2 linked regions of the Homo sapiens genome follow. The protein of the gene in region 2 purifies or fractionates together with the protein of the main gene of each other region. This does not show direct contact. Each region holds a gene or a part of one and is shown on either strand. Other genes may lie near its edges.

Evidence for each region. The genes of interacting proteins can lie anywhere in the genome.
Region 1: the proteins of KLF3 (region 2) and CPVL purify together in Homo sapiens (affinity purification with mass spectrometry; 2 studies listed by BioGRID and IntAct, with this or other methods). This does not show direct contact.

The regions. Positions count from the first base shown.
Region 1 is NC_000007.14:29,059,527-29,066,566, reverse strand, and holds part of CPVL (probable serine carboxypeptidase CPVL isoform b precursor), read left to right. Parts: intron 1-445; coding exon 446-544; intron 545-2,332; coding exon 2,333-2,506; intron 2,507-7,040. UniProt on the Homo sapiens protein: May be involved in the digestion of phagocytosed particles in the lysosome, participation in an inflammatory protease cascade, and trimming of peptides for antigen presentation.
Region 2 is NC_000004.12:38,695,174-38,702,032, reverse strand, and holds the end of KLF3 (Krueppel-like factor 3), read right to left. Parts: intron 4,952-6,859; coding exon 4,770-4,951; 3' UTR 516-4,769; downstream 1-515. UniProt on the Homo sapiens protein: Binds to the CACCC box of erythroid cell-expressed genes. May play a role in hematopoiesis.

The sequences.
Region 1 (7,040 bases), on a different chromosome or scaffold from region 2:
GCTCTATTCCTCTCATCCAATATGTCTTTACTCAAATGCCACCTTCTAAGTGAGGTCCTCTGTGACCTCCTCTCTACATTGTCCCATACACACATGCACACACATGACACTTCCTACTCCTCTTTAGTTTTCTCCTTGTCATTCCCTAACATACTCAAGAGTTTATCACTGTCTACCATATGATATAATTTACTTAGAAATGCTTGTTGTCCCCCACCAGAATAAAAGCTCCATGGGGGAGGACCATTGGTCTGTTTTGTTGATGGCCATTTCTCCAGTGCCATGACAGTGTCTAGCACAGAGAATATGCACAATAAGTGGGCGCTGGATGAAACAATAAAGGAATGAAAAAGTTGTTGAATAAATGAAATGACAAATGTCTGTACATTTTTATCCACACTGATGTTTTCTTTCTTTCTTTCTTTCTCCCTCTCTCCCAACCTAGATACTGGATAAACTACTAGATGGCGACTTAACAAGTGATCCTTCTTACTTCCAGAATGTTACAGGATGTAGTAATTACTATAACTTTTTGCGGTGCACGGTAATGACATTTTAAAAACCATAATAATGTTTGCTTAAAACTTTTGGCAAAACCGAACTTCCTTTGATTTGGGAAATATTATAGATGACTTTATACTAGACCAACATGTCCAAACTGTACCGCGTGATGTGGTCTACTAACCCATAGAATCTTTTCCTCATCAGTGTTGTATACGTTATAATCTGACCACTGAGAATGTGTGATATTTCAGATAACTCAAAACAACTTCTGATGAACATGATTTCCCCCAAGTAGAGCTTGTTATAGAGGCACTTTTGTGAAGGACACAGGCTGGGATTGGAGTTCTGGGTCTCAGGTCCCAGAGCTTCAAGTCTGTTTACGAGTCTCTTGAAAATGCCCACATTCTTTGTTCTGTACTTAAGACGCTTGGATAATCAAAACTGCCAAAGCCTTAATGAAAATATTTGCTTTGTCTTACTTTTAAGATGTTTAATGCATTTAGTATGGCCCTCACTTCAAGCCTTCTGGAATATTTCTCAAAGTATTCAAGTAGTTTGTTTCATAAAAGTAGGCCAAAGTTGATATCTTTTGTGTAGAATTAGTCAAACAGAAGGAGCCAAAGTAGGTGTTTGAATTTGTATAATCTTTGTCTAATGCTTATGACAATGCATTCTGTTTTTAAAATTGCCTGATTTATGAACTAGTTTGTAAATAAAGTATAACGTTAGTTTCAGTGGAATTCGCCAATGCTGCAGTTTTGGATTTAGATTCTACTAAGAGAAAAACATGTGGTAGACAAGACAGAAACAAAATTTGTGATGATACCTTTTTTTCTTTACAACAATATATTCACAGTTAGTAAAAATTGTTGATGAAGCACAAAGTTGTCAAACTCAAACTTTAACAGTTTTTTTAATCCTTGTGTAACTGTTTTTTTTTTAAAGCATTTACTCCTTTCTTTCAGTATAATGATTATTACAGAGACTTTATTGCAGTTTTTTTTTTAATAAGCTTCATGGACAACTTTTCTTCTGTCTTGTGTCCTTCATAAAGTATCATCTCTTTTCACATTTGACATATTTTCCCCTTTATTATAGTCAATCCAATTTTGTGTGTGTGTGCGGTTTTTTTTATTTTTTAATTTTATTATTATTATACTTTAAGTTTTAGGGTACATGTGCACAACGTGCAGGTTTGTTACATATGTATACACATGGACACAGGATGGGGAACATCACACACCGGGGACTGTTGTGGGGTGGGGGTAGGGGGGAGGGATAGCATTAGGAGATATACCTGATGCTAAATGACGAGTTAATAAGTGCAGCACACCAACATGGCACATGTATACATGTGTGTGGTTTTAATAAACAGCAGAACACAGAAAAGAAATTCTTAGCTTTAAATCCAGCACACCACCAACCTGGCCCTTGTGATCCATTTGACCTTCTTTCCAAAGAGCCACCAACAAGGAGTGAATTGATTTTGATAATCTCATCTCTTTTGTTTTCTCTCTCTTTGCCTCTAGTGGGGTTGCTAATGGGAGTCACAGATTGCAAAAGATTAGTTTCTGCAAAGGAAAATCCTGTATTTGCAAATTGGGTATTTTAAGAGTATTTTAAGGGTATTTCAGATTTCTAATTAGTAAAAAGATTCCACCTAAATTATCTCAAAACCTCCGAGTTAAAATTTCAAGAATGGCGACAAGTTAATAGTCCCGTCACGTTTCTCCATGTTGTATGTTATGAGAAATTCACAGCTTTTCCCAACATACTGTTCCTGCCACCAATCATGTTCCCTATGTCTTTCCAATGCCCCTTCTGCCAGGAACCTGAGGATCAGCTTTACTATGTGAAATTTTTGTCACTCCCAGAGGTGAGACAAGCCATCCACGTGGGGAATCAGACTTTTAATGATGGAACTATAGTTGAAAAGTACTTGCGAGAAGATACAGTACAGTCAGTTAAGCCATGGTTAACTGAAATCATGAATAATTATAAGGTAAGAGAGCTACTTCAGTTACTATTTTAGGAACTTTCAGATTACCCAGAGCAGAAGTGATTTGTAATTTGAGTCCTGCCTTTTTTTTTTTTTTAACTTTTATGATGTGTCATTAGCATAAATAACAGCCCCTTTCTTTGTTTGATTCCAATTCAAAGTTTTATATTGTTCCTTTTAATTTAACCACTTTTGCCGTTGTGGTGACTTATACCTGTAATCCCAGTGCTTTGGGAGCCTGAGGCGGGTGGATCACCTGAGGTCAAGATTTTGAGACCAGCCTGGCCAACATGGTGAAACCTTCTCTCTACTAAAAAATACAAAAACTAGCTGGACATGGTGGCGGGTGCCTGTAATCCCAGCTACTTGGGAGGTTGAGGCGTGAGAATCACTTGAACCCGGGAGGCAGAGGTTGCAGTGAGCCAAGATCGCAACATTGCACTCCAGCCTGGGCAACAGAGCAAAAACTCTGTCTCAAAAAAATAAAAATAAAATAAAATAATTTAACCACTTTCCCCTGATTATTCCTTAAAATGAAATTCCCTTTGGCACACACCACTTCTCATCCTTTCTTGAGAAAGGAAGAGTTGCAGAGCCAAAAAGATGACTGGCCGTGTGTAAGAGCCAGATTTCTCTTATGTGTTGCTTTGTTACATGAATCCCAATGACGTCAGGGATAAATGAAATCAACTGGTTATTCTGAAAATGCATTTTGCCTAATGGTTGTATTCATTCACTTTACCCAATCACAGTGTTTTGAGTCTCTCCTTAGGGTGTGAGGTTGAAATGATGAATGAGAAAGGGTCCCTGTTTGGAAGTAGGTCAAGTCAAGCCATTGTGCTGTCTGGTTGAAATGCTCTGCCTTTGCTGCCAGTGGAGGTGCCAGTGGAGAGTGAGGTCACAGAAAAGGAGCCCTGGAGGTTCAGGCAAAGAAGACATGGGCCCTGGAACTCCCACTGGGAAGGAGGACACCAAGAGCAAATGACATGGGGAAAGTCAGCCTGTGTATTATTTCTTTCCTGGTACTACGCTCTCAGCTCCTCCTCTGGTCCTCCAGTGCTGTTAGCCTTTGCCCAAGGGATCGTCTCTAGGGCAACTCCGAAGGATGCCTGTACTGATGACTGGGGAGACCACCACTGAGTGATCCACTTCCTCCCTATATCCTGTTTTGAATGAACAAAAAACAGGGCAGTCGGCAGCCCATAGGATTTTTGTATGAATTAGAATAAAGGCATCCTCTCCTCAAGATACTTTATTTCGATCTTTCAGAAATTGTCCTGATATACTGCCTTAGTTAAAACCAGACTCTTTACTGCCATTTGCTGGCATGCTGAATATTCATTTCTACAATGTGTATATTAGGAATGGTGTGTCTTAGGATTGTTCAGTGCACAATCTGCAATACTATCCAGGCAGTCCCTGGCCAATGCACCCTAACTAGACTGTGGTTTAGAATATGCCAGACCTAGGAGGCCCATTTCTGGGTCCTGCTTCTAGTACAGTGTTGGACACGTAACCATTGTTGAAAATAGTTTAAGACCAATTATATGCCAAGTCTACAAACCCATTATAAACCTGCAAAACTTGATGAAATACTTACTTTCTTGGAAAGAAAGAGTCTAACTAGGTCAGGCCAGCATTTCAGCCATCCTTGTGTTTGGTTTTCTTGGGGACATGTAGTGGCCCTTAGTGCTTGCTGCTTCAAGACTTCTCAGAGGACCTCCAGAAGGCACTGCTGTTTGTCCTCTCCTCTGAGCTCTCAGAACGCGTTGTCTTTACCCCCATAGGTGTACATGGCACACTCTAACGTGCAGACTCTCAGTCTGACACCCATACCACCACCAGCCTGGAGCAGATGTCAGGAATGAATGAATGATTAGTGCTGTATCAAAAATATATCTATAAACCTGTCCATAATCCATTAGGTGCTTATTATCCACAAATTTATTAAACCAAAAAGAGGTTAGCGTTCATGTCTTAAAGATGATGTTCTGTAATGTGATGTTAAGGAATGGAACGAGTGAATTTTTTTGAGAGGAGAGCAGATAAGTTTGATATGTGTTATTTGTGCCCTTGGGAGATATATTTTCTCACTGTACACACTTTTTTTTTTTTTTTTTGAGATAGAGTTTTGCTCTTGTTGCCCAGCTGTAGTGCAATGGTGCGACTGGCTCACTGCAACCTCCACCTCCTGGGTTCAAGCAATTCTCCTGCCTCAGCCTCTCAAGTAGCTGGGATTATAGGCATGTGCCACCATGCCCAGCTAATTTTGTATTTTTAATAGAGATGAGTTTTCTCCGTGTTGGTCAGATTGGTCTCAAACTTCTGACCTCAGGTGATCCGCCCACCTCGGCCTCCCAAAGTGCTAGGATTGCAGGCATGAACCACCGCACCTGGCCTCACTGTACAAATTTAACTAGAATATGATTCCTTTCTCAGCCATGTGAGGGTAAGGTGGGACAAACAGCTTACCTGATGACATAAACTCTCCTTATGTTTTGACTGATAAAGGAGAATATATTGATTAGAGGTGATCCTGCATTTTGATATTTAAACTTCTCTGTCCCTCTTGCCCATGTATCCTAAACTTACCACTATGAATTCCAATAAAATCAAAATCCAGTATTTTCTAAACTTTTCTTTTCTTTTTTGAGACAGAGTTTCACTCTGTTGCTCAGGCTGGAATGCAGTGGCACGATCTCGGCTCACTGCAACCTCCACATCCCGGGTTCAAGTGATTCTCCTGCCTCAGCCTCCTGAGTAGCTGAGATTACAGGCACATGCCACCATGCCTGGCTAATTTTTTTTCCGTATTTTTAGTAGAGACAGGGTTTCACCATGTTGCCCAGGCTGATTTCAAACTCCTGACCTCAGGTGATCCACCCGCCTCGGCCTCCCAAAGTGCTGGGATTACAGGTGTGAGCCACCGTGTCTGGCATAAACTTTTCAACTCTGAATCGGTTGCCAGAAAAAGAAAAGAGTTTAGTGGTATAGATAAACCATATTTCCATAAAGAAACAGAACAAAATATGCCACCAAAAAGTGGCTGCTGCTAAAACAGACAGCATGTTCACTCACGCAGCTGGCAAAGCGCTTGGGATAGTGATTATCTTTGGCTTGTCTGTTAATGATGTTGAACCTCAGTGTTCAGAACGGGAATCAGAACAACCTAGGTTGGCTTAAAACGTTAGTACCATTAAAGTCATATTTATGTAAGACTCGGTACTAATTTGTCATAGAAAATAGCATGCCTGTTTCTATTCATAGGAACTAGAGGTCTTTTTCCAGTACTGGGTTCATTTTGGCCAATGTGGAGCATCTCTGATGGTTGAAGGAAGACCTTCCTGGGTTTCTGGAATTACGTTTTCATGTAGTTTCTGTATAAAAATTAGCTTCTCTGTAAACTACGTTAGTTTCTATGTAAGCTACGTGAAAACATAATCCTTTTCTTACAGTGATATACAGGAGATGCATACTCAAAAGTCATTTTCCTTTCAGTAATTTCAGATGTTTGGGTGGTAAATTGAAATATCATATTGGCAGTTTCAAAAATAACTAGAAAGAGAAACAATCTGTTGGGCTATTTGAATTCTTTATGACTGAATGAAGTCAAAACATGATCAGGACTTTTAGGAGTTAGCTGGTTAATAGAGTATGGTGGTTATGAACATGTTCTTAAGTTGCATATCTTGAGTTTGAGCTCTGGTTACACCAGTCACTGGCTATGCTCCTTTGGGAGAGGAAACTTAAACTCTCTGCGCTTTGGCTTCCTTGTCTATAAAACAGGAATAAAAACAGTATTTATGTGTGAGTTTCTGTGAGGTTTAAATGAGATTATATATGTAAACACACTTAGAAGAGTGCCTGATGGTTAGAAGGTGCTTATTTATATATATATAAGCTATTACCAAAAATGTTCAACAAATTTTGTGAAAGTCTTTAAGATCTTGCTACATTCAAAAGTTATACAAGAAACCCTGGAAAACACAAAAATAAAAAAGAATGGACAGGCTTCCAGTTTCCATTCCAGTGTGTAAGAAGCTTAGAAGTCTCCACTCCATTGTAACAACAGTAAAAAGCCAAACAAACTGAAATATAATCAAGAACTCTTTTTAGATTTGTTGAAACTGAGGTCACAGGGCAAATTGCTGCCCTCCAAAATTAGAGAGAGAGATGAATATAGGGAGTCAAAACTTAACAGGAGCAAACCTGTAAGTAGAACCCTCCATGGAAACAAATGGTGAGGAAGGGAAACCTGAACAGTAATTGGTAAATTACTAGAGGCTCCATAGGGACAAGTCTGAGAGTTTAAAACACCATGGGTGGGGAGAGGACTCAGCCAAAGGTCACTTGTAAATGACCTTTATTATGTTGAGGGACTTTTCTTGTATACCCAGACTGTTGAGTGTTTTTATCAAGAAAGGATGTTGGATTTTGTTGAATACTTTTTGTGTCAATTGAGATGATCATGTGGTTTTGTCTTTCAGTCTGTGATGTGTCACTTTGATTAACGTACCTATGTTAAACCAGTCTTGCA
Region 2 (6,859 bases):
TCTAACAAGCTAGCCTCAGTTTCAATTACATTGCAGGGATGCAGAGGGAAGAGGAGAGGTAATTACATTTTGCCTTAAACAAAAGAACTCTAAATCCTTGGCTGGGTGCAGTGGCTCATGCCTGTAATACCAGCACTTTCTGAGGCCAAGGCGGGTGGATCACTTGAGGTCGGGAGTTTGAGACCAGCCTGGCCAACACGGTGAAAACCCATCTCTACTAAAATTACAAAAATTAGCTGGGCACAGTGGCGTGCACCTGTAGTCCCGCCTACTCAAGAGGCTGAGGCAGGAGAATCGCTTGAACCCAAGAGGCAGAGGTTGCAGTGAGATCACAACATTGCACTCCAGGCTGGGCAACACAGCGAGACTGTCTCAAAAAACAAAAACAAAAACAAAAACAAAAACAAAACAAAACAAAACTCAACTCTAAATCCCTATCGGAAACTACTTCTTCTTCATGTGATGCTGGAGAATGCAGTGTCCATGAACATGGTTACTAAAGGCTTGAAAAATAATTACTTTTATCCAGAGTTATTTACTTTAATGCGTTATTGTTCTGTTCCTCGTTCCCCACTCCCCAACATGAGAGTCTTGATATTTTACTCTAAAAGTTTAAAGTATTATACACATGCGTCTTTTAATACAAAATGCTGCAAGTTCTTTTTGGAAGCAGGCAGGGGTTCATAAATAACAAATACAAGAAGTATTTCAAGAATGAACTAGGTGAGTTTGTAGATTTTTGCTGGATTGTCTGCAGTTTTATGATTTCAGCCTAGGAGACTTCCTGTTGGCTGTTTTCAGAAAACCAGGGACATAGCTTGAGGGCTGAGTTAATTCCGGTAGTTCATCTTCCAGTTAGATCTATTTTTCTGTCCCTCCATCAACAATAACTGCCCATCAGAGTAAGTAATGTTCTAAGCAAGGGTTCTTACATTGCTCTGTAAGTTTTGCTCTAGTGATCACTGCATATGAAGTAATCACATGATCACATTTAATATTCTGATGGTTTTATTAACAAGTATATAATATATATTGCATACTGTATATAGTATATGAGGACTGTACAGTACAAATTTATGTTCACAGTTTGACATGACAAAATGTCATTACTGAATTCCCATTGGACTACAGAGTAGAAACAGAGAAGGTACATTAAACATTCACATCTTTAGTAAGAAAGATTACCAAAATGTTTCAGTATCTGCAAGTATACTAATGCATGCTAAAAACCTTTACCCATTCAGTCTTATTAGCTTATAAAATATATTACACTTTATTAAAAATTTCTGCATAGTTTATACAAGTATTAAAGTACTGTAAATGTAATAATCCTGCTATATTTGCAGGTATGGTTTAAGAGATGCTAAGCAGAAAGATTATTTTGACCCTCTAACACTAAGTACATAACAGAAAAAAAAGTGCTAGTATTTGTAAAACAATATTGTTGTAGCCCTCGTTTAATGCATGTAAAGATGGCTTTGTAAATGTATTGTTTAGGTGAATTTGCGATCATTTAGCAATTGTTAACCTTGACCAAGAAGAGAATAAAGACAGCTCGGAGCAACTTCATGTATGACAGCAATTCCTTCAAGACAACTGTATATTTTCAAACCAAATTATTTTAAAACCTTAGATCTTTCAGATTGTCTTTACAACAATCTAATCAGGAATGATGCGCATATATACAGTATCAGCAAAATAGTCTTTCAAATTCCACATTAGTGCAATACTGATAGTGCAGATGGGTGTTTAATAAAATATACATATACATATATAGTTCCCCTGTAATTCTGTTCCAAGGCTCTTGAAACTTCTGTGTATTTAGCATCTCCCTAGTTGAATATAGCTATGCTGCTAACACATTCTCCAAACCAAGCAATTTAGAATGTTAATGCCCATTTATGATGTAGATTCACATAACTCTAAAATACGATGGATTCTGATTCTTCTGACTTCTCTAGGATGACACTTGGGTAACAACTGAAGAAACTCTATAACAAACAGAATTTACGTAATAGTAACTTCATGTTTACAAATCATTCTCATCAATTTAAAATATTGCGATTGAAATCACCATTGATAGTAACATGACACACATCATTAAAACATGTTCAAGGGCATCTAATCTTGTATTTGAGGTCTTCCACAATAACAGCTAAAAATGACTAAGAGGCTAAATTTCTCAACTATCATAGTAAAATACAAATATATATATAAGAAAAGTTTGGTAAGGGCCAATTGGTAATGAAAGCGTATTGACCAGCATGGGAATAGAGAATGGCCGCTCTGGGTTGCTTTTGTTCAGAGTTAAAACGGATCTTTGTTAAATGAACTGTTAACACAATCTAAGCAAGCTGAACAGTAATGTTAAGAGTCTTTGCAAGGTCTTGCTTCAAATCTTTTGAACAAAATTTAAATATGCCACAGCAAATGCATCAATTCCATGAGATGCCCATGAGGCTATTCACTGAACTCAGGCTCAAAGCTGATCCCAGATCAATCTGATCCTTTCTCGCCCTTTCCCCCACTTCTCTATGGATTGGAACACACATAAACTGGTTACCTCGGTCAAAACAAAAAGATTTTCCTTGCGTTCCATCTTGATTCTTGTGTGTTGTGAAAGAACCATCTCAAGAAATGAACACTTTGCCATGAATATGACTAAGCATTTACAATACAGACAATATCTACTTTTCAAAGAGCCATTTTATCACTCAATTCATGTCATAGTTGCAAAAAAGAAAAACTTCAGCTGAAAAAAAAATTATCTTTGCCTTTAGCTGAAAAACAAAACAAAACAAAAAAACAGCCCAATTAGGATGTTTTAGTATCCTAAAGAAGTTTTGCAGTGCTTTAAAAAAAGGAAAATCAAACCCAAGTGCCAAGATAACACATTTCTTTGCATTTCTTAACTACATTTCTTTACAGCTGGTTCACAGGGCGGATGAGTGGGACCTCTTAGCCTCTTAGGTGCACAGTCCCTACAACTTTTATTAACACAGTGCCATCAAAGCAAGCTCCCCACACAATTCACAGGCCTCCGGAATCACTCATTCACAGATGTTTTAAAAATGATCAAACAATGTATTCCTCCCAGTTAAAGTTGTGTTGGATCCTGAGTTGCGGCTGGGATGAATCTTCAGGATTTCATTCTTCTCTCTTCTCCTCCATTCTTGATGAAGGGGAATTTGGTTATATGCACCCACATTTAACTACTGTTGCTCACTTTCTTCAAATTCAGGACCAATGACATTTCTATGTATGAATTATTTTTATTGGCATTTAGACTATGGTGCTCAAAAGCCTGCTTTTGAATAACTTCCCCCAATAATGGTGCTATTTATCTTCAACATAAACACGAGCCATTATTTTCAGTTTGTTCTGACACTGAAATAGTGATAGGAAATTGCCAACTCTAACAGTAAACTTTTGGGAATTTTTGAGCTACATATATGAATCCCTGATCTGTGGTTTTCTATATTTTCTCATAAATTCCCAAAATAAAGGTATGTGTGCTTCACAACTAGTTATATTTACAAATAGTGTCACTCAGGTCTTAATTGAATCAATCCATTAAAGCATTAGCAGATGCTTTATGGTATGTGTCATGAATACAAATGACAGCCAATTTGGCACCTTAACAGCTCACACAGGAAGAGTTTCTGTATAAAAGCTATGTGATTAATTTGATAAGGGAATACAAGTACCACTCAACATTTCCCTGTTTACAAAAAAAGCTATAAGCAGATTGGGTAAAAGAAGAACCATCCATACTCTTACCCGAAAGATTTCTTACCATTACTGGGCAAATATTCCATGGAGTCCCTACTATCAATGTTTGATGATCTCATATTAAGGACATTGTAGGAATGGAGATAGTTGCATGGATAACCCCATCGGTATATGGCTTTGCAGCATGGTTCTACAAAGCTGAGTATGCACAGAGACTGAAGCTCTGGGAATGCTGCACACAGCTAACAAAATGTTGAAACCTCACTGACAACCCCTAGCCCAGGAGGAATTGCCTCTTCTGCTCCCCCTGCTAAATGGCCCTCTCCTCCGACTCCATGCTATGAAAACACAGCACCCTTCCCTTGAACTGCTACACATCACCCACCTAGATCGAAAGTTTGGGCTCATCTCCCATTGGTGGCAAAGACCTCCATATGAGCTGCAGGCACAAAGGAGGGCAAAGAACTCGATTCAGATGAAGTCTAAGATCCAGGTTGACAAGATTTGTGAAGAATGACGGAAGAGGTGACTGCACTAGCTTGAAATCTGGCTGTACTTCTAGCTAACCGGTGCAAGGGGCCACACTTGTTTTCACTGTCAAGCATAAAATATTATCACAGGGCAGAGGTAAGAATGTCTCTGGCAAGGACTAGCAGTCTGGATACTGTATTTCTAATACATTTACTCTGACATTCTTTTGAGGAATACATGGAGAACTGACAATTGGTTATGTTAGTTTACATGTTCCCTTGTTCTTATTACATTAAACGTATCTGTAAGAAGGGTTTGCTTAGCATCCCCAGAAAAAAAAAAAAAAGTGTTCACATTCTTTAGGTCTGACCCGTGGTAAGGAGAGGGAGGATTAGAGAACATCTACTACTGACCATATGGAAGTTTTGGATGATATAAATTCAGAGATTCAGACCAGCTGAATCAAATTAAAATGTACATGTAAAAAATGTGTTAGATAATGGGAGGCAGGACAGAGAGAGAGCCAGGTGAGTGGGGAGTCACGCTGAGGCAGGACACAGAGGCAATCAGACTAGCATGTGGCGTTTCCTATGGAGGGCAAGATGGTCAGAACGGGAGAAGCTGCGGTCACAGTCCGGGCACTGGAAAGGTTTGATTCCAGTATGTTTTCGGAAATGTCTTGTTAGTTCATCAGACCGAGCAAACTTCCATGTGCACCCTTCCCATGTACATTTGTAGGGTTTTTCTCCTGCAAAAGGAAAAAGAAAAGAGCTATTTTTTTTTTCTGTAAAGGTAGTAAAGATCTTTGAGTTAATGCTTGACAAATATTATTTCCAAGATATGTTCATACATTTGTTCTTCAATAACACAGTGCATTATAAACTACTGCAAGACAAGCAAGAAGAAAATGAACTAATACCGTAATGTTTCATTGGCTCTCTGCCAAAAAAACGGGAGGAGAATTTTAAGAGTTCTTAAAACACAGAGTCACTGAAATCCATTCTGAGGGACTACCAAATAGTGAATGAACACATGGTGATCTGTATTTGCACATCTCCCAAATCTTAAACCTGCTTGGGAGCTTAATTATATGCAGTGCTATTCATTTAATGAGATAATGAGAACTCCAAATTGAAAGTTTGTGGGATTTTCTTAAACTTTTCAATAGTTTTCCAAAAATATGAAGTCTCTAACAACTGAAGTATCTGTTAGGGATTAACATCTTATTTTCTTGTTTAGTCAATAACAATTAGGCCTAAGTATAATGCTTTAATTCAGGGGTACTAAAATATACGAATTCTTCCCCATCTGTCCTGAGCCAGGTTTTCACAACCCCCTCCTGTAGGATAAGGATCATTTACAGATGAGGAACAAAAGCTCCTTGTGAGAAAATGATGGGGAGAACCAGGATGAAGGGAGACCCTCACAAATAAAAAGGCTGTTATGGCAATCTTACCTTTTAAATTAGTCATAAGGGTCATGAGTATGACAAAATTAACTCCCATTTAACACCCTTTGTTCTCTAGAAGCCTTGAGGGATTACCATTCCTTGGCATTTGAATGAGATATGCAGGATTTCTATTATCTGCTTCCTGGTACAGAATACACACACAAAGAGGCGTTTTTTTTTTTTTTTTTTTTTTCCTACATCTAAACTGTCACCCAAATATTCAATGTCCTTTTAATTTTAGGCTGGAAGTGGGTAACATCCACCTCTTCGGTCCCACTAATGCCTCAAGGATGCCCTCAGTAATCATCGATTTGCACTGCTGTTTGGGCGTTGCTCTAGATACAAGGCTATCACCCTCAGCTCTCTCTGTGGGTGTTAGCTTCCTCTGCCTCCTCCCAGGATTCACTTAAAAACTTCACTTCCATTTTGCCACTTTCCTTCCCTTTTCTCTTCCAAACCTCAGATTCCTCTTTGTAAATTTTCTGAGTAAAAATGATTTGCAAGACTCAGAAAAGCAACCTACACTGCTAAGGAAAATGTACACAGATGCAAACTGCTGTCAAACTAGAATTCCACATCAAAGAGTTTGAGGTGAGATGAGCCTTACTGTACATACATCACCACTACTAATGGTCAATCAGGCTGTTAAAAGATGTCATTTTTAATATTTTTTAGAGACATGGCCTCCCTATGTTGCCCAGGCTGGACTTGAACTCCTGGGCTCAAACAATCCTCCTGCTTCCACCTCCCAAGGAGCTGGGACCACAGGTGCACGTCACTGCACCTGGCTGTTAAAACATTTTTGTATTATTTCCTTAAGATGTTTTACTACCAAAATGTTTGGCACTGAGACCAATTTCACATTTTTCTCGGCCATGTAATGACTTTTATATGATCTGGCTGCTCATGCTCTATATTCAGTATTGGGCGAGATGGAAGAAATCCTAGAACAAATATGGTAGGCAACGGCATAAGAGTTCCCTCAAGTTTAGAAGACAAATATTAACCACATTTCTTCACTTTTCTTTCCTTGAAGGACAGTCTTCTATTTGAATTGTTTGTGTTAAACTGTTGCATTAATTTGTGCTGCACAAAGACTGTTCGCTCTCATGAATTTACAATGCAGGTATGTGAAATAGCTCACAGGAAGGCCACATCCTTGACTGTGAAAGCACTTCCCCCATTCCAGCGGCGAAGGCTCCAACC